2 linked regions of the Homo sapiens genome follow. The gene in region 1 interacts genetically with each later gene. Each region holds a gene or a part of one and is shown on either strand. Other genes may lie near its edges.

Region 1 (3,817 bases):
CAGATAAGCCAGCTCAGATACCAAAAATAAATAAAATCATTTAAAATTTGGCAACAATATTCTCTTTATATCACATGGACTCTCATCAATTTCAATTTTAGTAACAATTCAACGTAAAGAAACTTAAAATTATAAATGAGCTAGTTAAGAATTTAGGCTCTCTGATTAGCTTTTTATTTTAAAATAAAATGTGTAACACGTTCATCATAAAAAGTTTTAGGAAAAATTAGTATGTATTTTTTATATCTTTTTTCTATGCACATACTTTTTAAAATGCGATCACACTGAGTATTAGGGTTTTAAGAAGTTTAACTCAAATTAATAGTTTAAGCACAAATAGAGATTAGCTCACATCAAATCAGGAGAAAAATAGGGACAAATCTAGCACAAAAGGGCAACTGGCTGACAGTGTGGTGGTGCGCACCTGTAGTACCACCTACTTGGGAGGCCAAGGCAAAAGAATTCTTTGAGACCAGAAGTTTGAATCCAGCCTGGGTAACATACAGAGACTGCCATCTCTTTATTTATTTTTATTTATTTATTTATTTTAAAGGCAACTGGCCATAGACCTCTTTCAGCCTCTCTGCTTTTCTCTGGGGATTAACATCACTCTCTGAGACCAGGTCCTCTGTAGGAGCTTCAGGAAGCTAGCTCTAGGCTCATGAATTCTCAGCCTATACTTCAGTAAAATGCGCGTTTCTCTCTCCCAGCTCCAATTTGAAAAATCCCAGGAAAGAATCCTAATTGGCCTGGACTGGGTCAAGTGTCATGCCTATGGCCTGGCATCTGTAAGAAGAGGGCAGCTCCAATATGTACCATGTAGTTTGAGTCAAGAGAGGAATTCCCCCAAATAAGGTAGAAGGAAGACAGTGAAGTAGGGCAGACACAGCCGGTGGACAAATATGTGTATGAGATGAAAAACTACCTCAAATTTTGGCTCCCATCTTCTGCAAATTCTGTTTCATAGTCTGTTTGTTCTTGCTGAACACAGCGGTGAGTATGTATACATCAGAAATACTTGAGAATCTTCTTAAGAAGAGCTACTCAGGTACCACCCCAAAAGGAGTTGTATCATGAGCATCTTCACATGTCACTAAACACTATTTAAAAACAGTTTTTAATAACTGGATAGAATTCTGATGTGGTTCTGATTTTTTAAAATTTAATTTTATGACTTAAATCCAGAAAAGCCAGATACCATCATGATCCTTTTTGAACACAATATTCAAAAAGAATTTTATGAAAGCACCAACCACTGACATCTTTGCCACATTGTTCTGAGAAACTATGCTAAAGGATTCTTGGCGAGGGGTGGTGGGACAGAGATTATGGGGAGAATACTGGGTGGGGGATGGAGACAATAAGGTGATCCTCTGAGACTCACCATTAGTAAAAATGTACCGTACCACTGAGGTTTAAAAAAAGAAATCTTAAAGTGAGAAGGATAAAATATACTCCCAAATTAAAGCAGGAAAAGCAAGGTTTGTTATAAAGACTGAAGATTAAAACAAACATACTATAACCCAAACAATTTAGGAAAGTTTGTGACACAAGGGAAAAAAGCAGCCTGTGTGATGCCTAGAAAATAAAAACCTAAGAGTAAGTCTGGATCACACTGCCTCTCATTCAGAAGCAGGGGTGCACCTGCTAGGGATGCAAGCCCACCTCACTGGTCTGCTAACATGAGTCACCGGGATCATTCAACTCATTTCCCTTGCTAATATCATGCTTACTAATCAATCTCTTAATTATACTTTGGCTTTCTACAAGCAAGAGAATACACTGACTAACCAGGTGTACAGACAAAGCTGAGTATCTGTGCCTGAGAAGCCAAGCACAGTGAGTGTCTGGGCCTTGATTATCGTGCCAAGGGAGTGCCAGCTTATGAAGACCTACGGAGTCTTCAGCTAATCTCCTTCTCTCACGTTTTCCATTTTCTCTTTAAAGAAACCACTACCAGTAGCCTACTGATAGGCAACGTTAAAGAGTCTTCAAACAGCATACATACTACCTGGTCAAATGACAAGGCTGAGACAATAGAATGCTATGAGTAAAATCATAGTCATGAGGAATGAGGAATTATTAAATAACAGGAAGTTATTACAACAAATGTATCCAGTGAGCAGGCAAGACCTTTATATCCCCGTATTTCAGCAGAGCTCAGAACAAGATTTGCAGGACACCATGAGAGCATACATGAAGGAAACAGAGTGGCCTCTAACAATGACAGAAAATTAAAGGGAACTACAAAGTCCTCCTAAGTGACAAGTCCCCAGTTGAAAACATGAAGTTTCTGCCATCACTGCTGTTTGGTGACTCCTCTCTGCCTAACGCCACCCCCGCCAATGGCATCTACTGTTACAGTGGTGTAAAGGCATGACCATCACTGATGCTACACCAACAGTCTGGAGCACCACAGGAGGCTGACTTTGCCAGGGAGAACAGTTGACATACAAGGTCAAGACTGAAACACACAGGCTCAAGGTGGACATTCAAGCCGAGAGGCAGAGCAAATTGCCTAGGAGTGACGACATTCAACTAGTTTTTTAGTAGGAAATCCAGTTTTTCAAATGAATTTACAATAAATATATAAAGTAAATAATTCATTTTTTAAAAAAAGTTAATTGTTAAATTTATGCAGCATGTACTCATAAGGACAATGAGAACAATGAGGCTATTTTTAATATAAATATTTTAAATGAAAGGTTATAGTAAACAAGAGCATTATATCAGCCTTAATATCCAATTTATTCTGTGTTTTAGGTGTACAGATCCAATAAGTCACAAAGGTAAATTGTTCCAAATTAGTTTTAATAGCTCTCCTAGTCACCTCAGGATCCTCCTAAAACTGCCCCAGAAGCTTGAAAAAGAAATGATAAGCAATGTTTATTTCAAAATTTAATCACTAACAATAACAACAGCTATCCTTATCATGAATTCTTTATCAAAAATAAGGACAAAAGTATCCACAACTGACAGCAAGCAATAAAACTGGAATAGAGTACTATGACCTCTCTGCCTGTTTTGTGTTGCTGGGTCACTGCATAACACTCTTGGGTCAGGAGGAAAGCACACACTAGGCAGATGTGCTGGGCTGGCTGCACCTGCCACGATGGCACACTTGCTGCACAGCTTTGGAGGCCAACATGTACAGGCCTGAATTCTACAAAAGGCCTGTGCATTAACACAACCTTCCTAATCAATGACACACAGACATAAAGTATGTGACAAAGATGGCAAACAGAGTTTTATTCTAGTCTGTGGCAAAACCAGTTAACCTGGTAGCATAAATTATCACATTATTGGTTTCCAATGTATTAAAAGGTGGCATTTCACACATTTTCAACAAACATAAGAAAAAATGCTCAACATCACTAATTATCAGGGAAATGCAAATTAAAACCACAATGAGATACCACCTTACTCCTGCAAGAATGGCCATAATTTAAAAATAATAATTAAAAAAATAGACAATGGCATGGATGTGGTGAGAAGGGAACTCTTATACACTGCTGGTGGGAATGTAAACTAGTACAACTACTGTGGAAAACAATATGGAGATTCCTTAAAAAACTGGCCAGGCGCAGTGGCTCACGCCTGTAATCCCAACACTTTGGGAGGCCAAGATGGGCGGATCACGAGGTCAGGAGTTCAAGACAAGCCTGACCAACTTGGTGAAACCTTGTCTCTACTAAAAATACAAAAATGAGCTGGACCTGGTGGCAGGCACCTATAATCCCAGCTACCCGGGAGGCTGAGGCAGGAGAATTGCTCGAACTCGGGAGGCAGAGGTTGCAGCGAGCTGAGATCACGCCAC
Region 2 (3,817 bases), on another chromosome or scaffold:
AGGTCAGGAGTTCAAGACCAGCCTGGCCAACACAGTGAAACCCCTTTCTCTGCTAAAAAAAAAAAAAAAAAATACAAAAATTAGCCAGGCATGGTGGTGCGTACCTGTAGTCCCAGCTACCTGGGAGGCTGAGGCAGGAGAACTGCTTGAACCCGGAAGGTGGAGGTTGCAATGAGCCGAGATTGCCCCACTGCAGTCCAGCTTGGGCAACAGAGTGAGACTTCTTCAACAACAACAAAAACAAATCAAACAATTGGGTTTGGGGCACATCCAAATAGCTAAACAGGTAAAGACTCCTGGAGGGTGGGTGTTTGGGAGAGGGCATGGAAGCTACCCCTTCCCCACATCCCTTGCCCTGTGCATTGCTTCCATCTGGGTATTCACCTGGATCCTTTGTAATTAACGGGTAAGCATAAGTAAAGTGTTTCCCTGAGCTCTGTGAGCCACTCTATTGAGAATCAAACCAAGGAGGGGGTCTGAGGAACCCCAGTTTATAGCCAGTCAGTCAGAAGCACAGGTCACAGCCTGGGATTTGTGACTGACATCTGAGGGAATTTGGGGCAGCAGTCTTCTGGGACTGAGCCCTTAACCGTTAGATGGATCTCCAGGTGCATAGTGTCAGAATTGAATTGAATTAGAGGATGTCCAACTGGTGTGTGGCGGGAGAGTTGCTTGGTGTATGGGGAAAACTCCCATACATCTGGTGTCTGATGTGTGTTGTGAGACTGTAATAGAAGATAACAGTTTGTTATTTTCTGTTCTTTAGAGTACCCCATGCCAGTTGTGAAAAGGCAGGCATGAGCTAGTTTAGACTTAATACAGACAGACACTCCTGGAGTTTGTACATGGACCCTGTGCAGTTTTACTTTTTTTTTTTGAGATGGAGTTTCGCTCTTGTTGCCCAGGCTAGGGTGCAATGGCGTGATCTTGGCTCACCACAACCTCTGCCTCCTGGGTTCAAGCGATTCTCCTGCCTCAGCCTCCTGAGTAGCTTGGATTACAGGCATGCGCCACCATGCCTGGCTAATTTTGTATTTTTAGTAGAGACGGGGTTTCACCATGTTGGTCAGGCTGGTCTCGAAATTACAACCTCAGGTGATCCGCCCGCCTCGGCCTGGGATTACAGGCGTGAGCCACCACATTTGGCCCAGTTTTACTTTTTAATGTGGGCTGGTGACAAGCAGAAGCATCTGCCTGTATCTGGACTCTCCTCCCAAGAGTTGGTTCGGCACCAGGGCCCATGGTGAGCTCAGTCTTCTGTCTGCCGTCTGTTCTCTGCAGGAGGCCTGCGGCTCACTGACCAGCTGGTTCTCAAGGTCACGCCTGTTGTGTGCATGTAAGAGTGTTGTAGGTGCCTTTGCAGCGATTGCTGGCTGATGGGTGTCTGTCTTTGCCTTTTCTTCAGATTGGACGAGGCCTTGGCCCAGTACTTTGGGAATGGGACAGAGTTGGCCCAGCAAGAAGATATCTACCCAGCCATGCCAGAGCCCATCAGGAAGTGCCCACAGTGCAACAAGGACATGGTCCTTAAGACCAAGAAGAATGGCGGGTGAGTGCGCTGCCTTCTGCCCCCACCTCTGCTCCCCAGCACCTGCGGTGTCAGCCGTAGCTCGAAAGACCCTGCCATTTCACTCCATGGAATCTTTCAAGACAGGCCTGTTGTTGCCAACCTGCAGGCAAGGTGTTGGCCTAAAAGCATAGCAGGGTGGGATCAGGCCTTTGAGGTGTAAAGCACTATGGGAATTCAGAGCAGGTGAGAAACTGAATGATAGTGGGGTTTTTTTGTCCCCTGTGGATAGGACATCATATACCCAATGTGTAACACATGGAGGAGCATGAGCTTCAGATCTAGGTGGGTCTGGGTTCAAATGCCACTTATGCCGCATATAAGTGGTGTGGCCTGAAGCAAGTTACTTACCTGCTCTGAACCCCAATTTCTTCTTTTATAAAATGTCAGTACTTACAAGGCTGTGTTAAGGGTGAGGATTTGGTGAAAATGGTCAGGACTATATAGCACATTGCCTGATGTGTTGTAGATACTCAGCAGATACTACTTTTGTTCTCTCCTAGTTTTAGTTCTGAATGGGGCCTGAAAATCTCAACTCCCTTTTCGCTTTAAATATAGTAGATCTGAGTGGGCAATTTAGCTTCACATCAGGTTGTTGGAGCCAGTGGCTGGCCACTGGAGGAAGTTCACGGGGAAAGACGAGGTGGAGGGGTGGCAGCCATCATTCATCAGGTGCCGTCCCTCACTGGTGTAATGCAGGGTGGTGCTCTGTAAGCATTACCTCATCCCATTCTCCTAACTACCCTGCAAGGCAGGGATTTTTATGCAGCTTAGAGGGCTGAGGTGCTTGCTTGGAGTCAAGCAGCCGTGGTGGGCAGCAGAGTTTGAAACCGGGTTTTCACTGCCTTTTTCCATCCTGCCTGGCCCACCTGGGACTGCTGTGCTCCTTGCTGCTGAATAAGAAAGGAGGTTTCTCAACTCCTCACCTCCAGCCATCATTAACCTGGCTGGCCCAAGTGAAGAGAAGGCCACCCAGGCTCTCAGAAACAAGAGGTCTATGGGCCAGACCTGGAAGCAGGTGTCAGGGCTCGCGTCACTCACAGACAGAAGCCAGTGCCACTCTAGGCTTAGCCCAATGACTGGGCGTATATTTCAGCACTTAATAAATGCTGTCGATGGGTTTTCCTTGCTATCGGTAGGTTATTGGATTAGTACTCATTGGAATATAAGGAGAGAGAATAACTACTTTTGTTTTAGCTCTGAATTCTCCAATTCTCTGAATTGGAGAATTATTATTATTCTTTAGTTATTCGTTTGTTCTTCTGTTATTCTTTTGTAATGCTTCTCTGAGTTACTCCAGAAGGTCAGGAGATTATCTTGTGGGATTTGCCACTCCATGATTTATCTGTTAATTTCCATTTCTGAGATTGTAAATTTCTTATTTAAATGATTGGAGTTCGGGGCTTTTTTTTCCTTCATAGTGTACCCAGGCACACTCATGAGGAATTTGTAAATCACATGCATATTAGCTAGTCAAACCCTAACGTTTCATGACTGCAAGGTGTTGAAAAACATTGGCCAGGAGAGACCGGGATGGGATGGATGGGCAGTGGGTGGGGTGTAGATGTTGCAGGTGAGGCTTTGTCACAAACAGATGGGTTTCCATTCCTGGCTCCCATCCACACATGCATGCATGTCTCTGGGCAGGTTTCCAGGCCACACCAAGCCACTGTTTACTCACATGCAAACTGAGGGGGCCCCTGACACTGCCCAGACTTGGCACGAGGCAGAAAGGCAAGAATGTGTGAGTGCACAGCACAGAGCCCCTGGCGTCAGCTTGGTTGGTTGTTGGTTTTCTAAATAGAAAGCAGGGCCAGCAATAGCTGCTTTGTGCTTTTGGGATGTGAGAAGGCTCATTTTTCCCAATCAATTCAATATGAGTGCTTGTGTATCCAGTTAAGTGTCATCCAGAAAAGGGAATGTTGTCCTCGGGCAGCTGAGGAAAGGCTGCCTTAGCTGATGGCCAACAGCGGAGAGCATCTCCTGCACTCCTATCATCTGACATGGCACTTTGTCCCCAGGTTCTACCTCAGCTGCATGGGTTTCCCAGAGTGTCGCTCAGCTGTGTGGCTTCCTGACTCGGTGCTGGAGGCCAGCAGGGACAGCAGTGTGTGTCCAGTTTGTCAGCCACACCCTGTGTACAGGTGAGCTGGGCACCTGAGTCAGGTGCCTCCTCTGGAGTGTGTACACCATCTTTCCCTTGCTCCTGCCAGAACCCAGAGAGGAGTGTCGGGGATTCCACTCAGGCCC

The links.
Region 2: changes in MAP3K4 (region 1) and TOP3A are lethal when combined (synthetic lethality), as found in Homo sapiens cells (one large-scale study listed by BioGRID).

The regions. Positions count from the first base shown.
Region 1 is NC_000006.12:160,994,757-160,998,573, reverse strand, and holds part of MAP3K4 (mitogen-activated protein kinase kinase kinase 4), read right to left. Parts: intron 1-3,817. UniProt on the Homo sapiens protein: Component of a protein kinase signal transduction cascade. Activates the CSBP2, P38 and JNK MAPK pathways, but not the ERK pathway. Specifically phosphorylates and activates MAP2K4 and MAP2K6.
Region 2 is NC_000017.11:18,280,430-18,284,246, reverse strand, and holds part of TOP3A (DNA topoisomerase 3-alpha), read left to right. Parts: intron 1-1,405; coding exon 1,406-1,549; intron 1,550-3,588; coding exon 3,589-3,711; intron 3,712-3,817. UniProt on the Homo sapiens protein: Releases the supercoiling and torsional tension of DNA introduced during the DNA replication and transcription by transiently cleaving and rejoining one strand of the DNA duplex.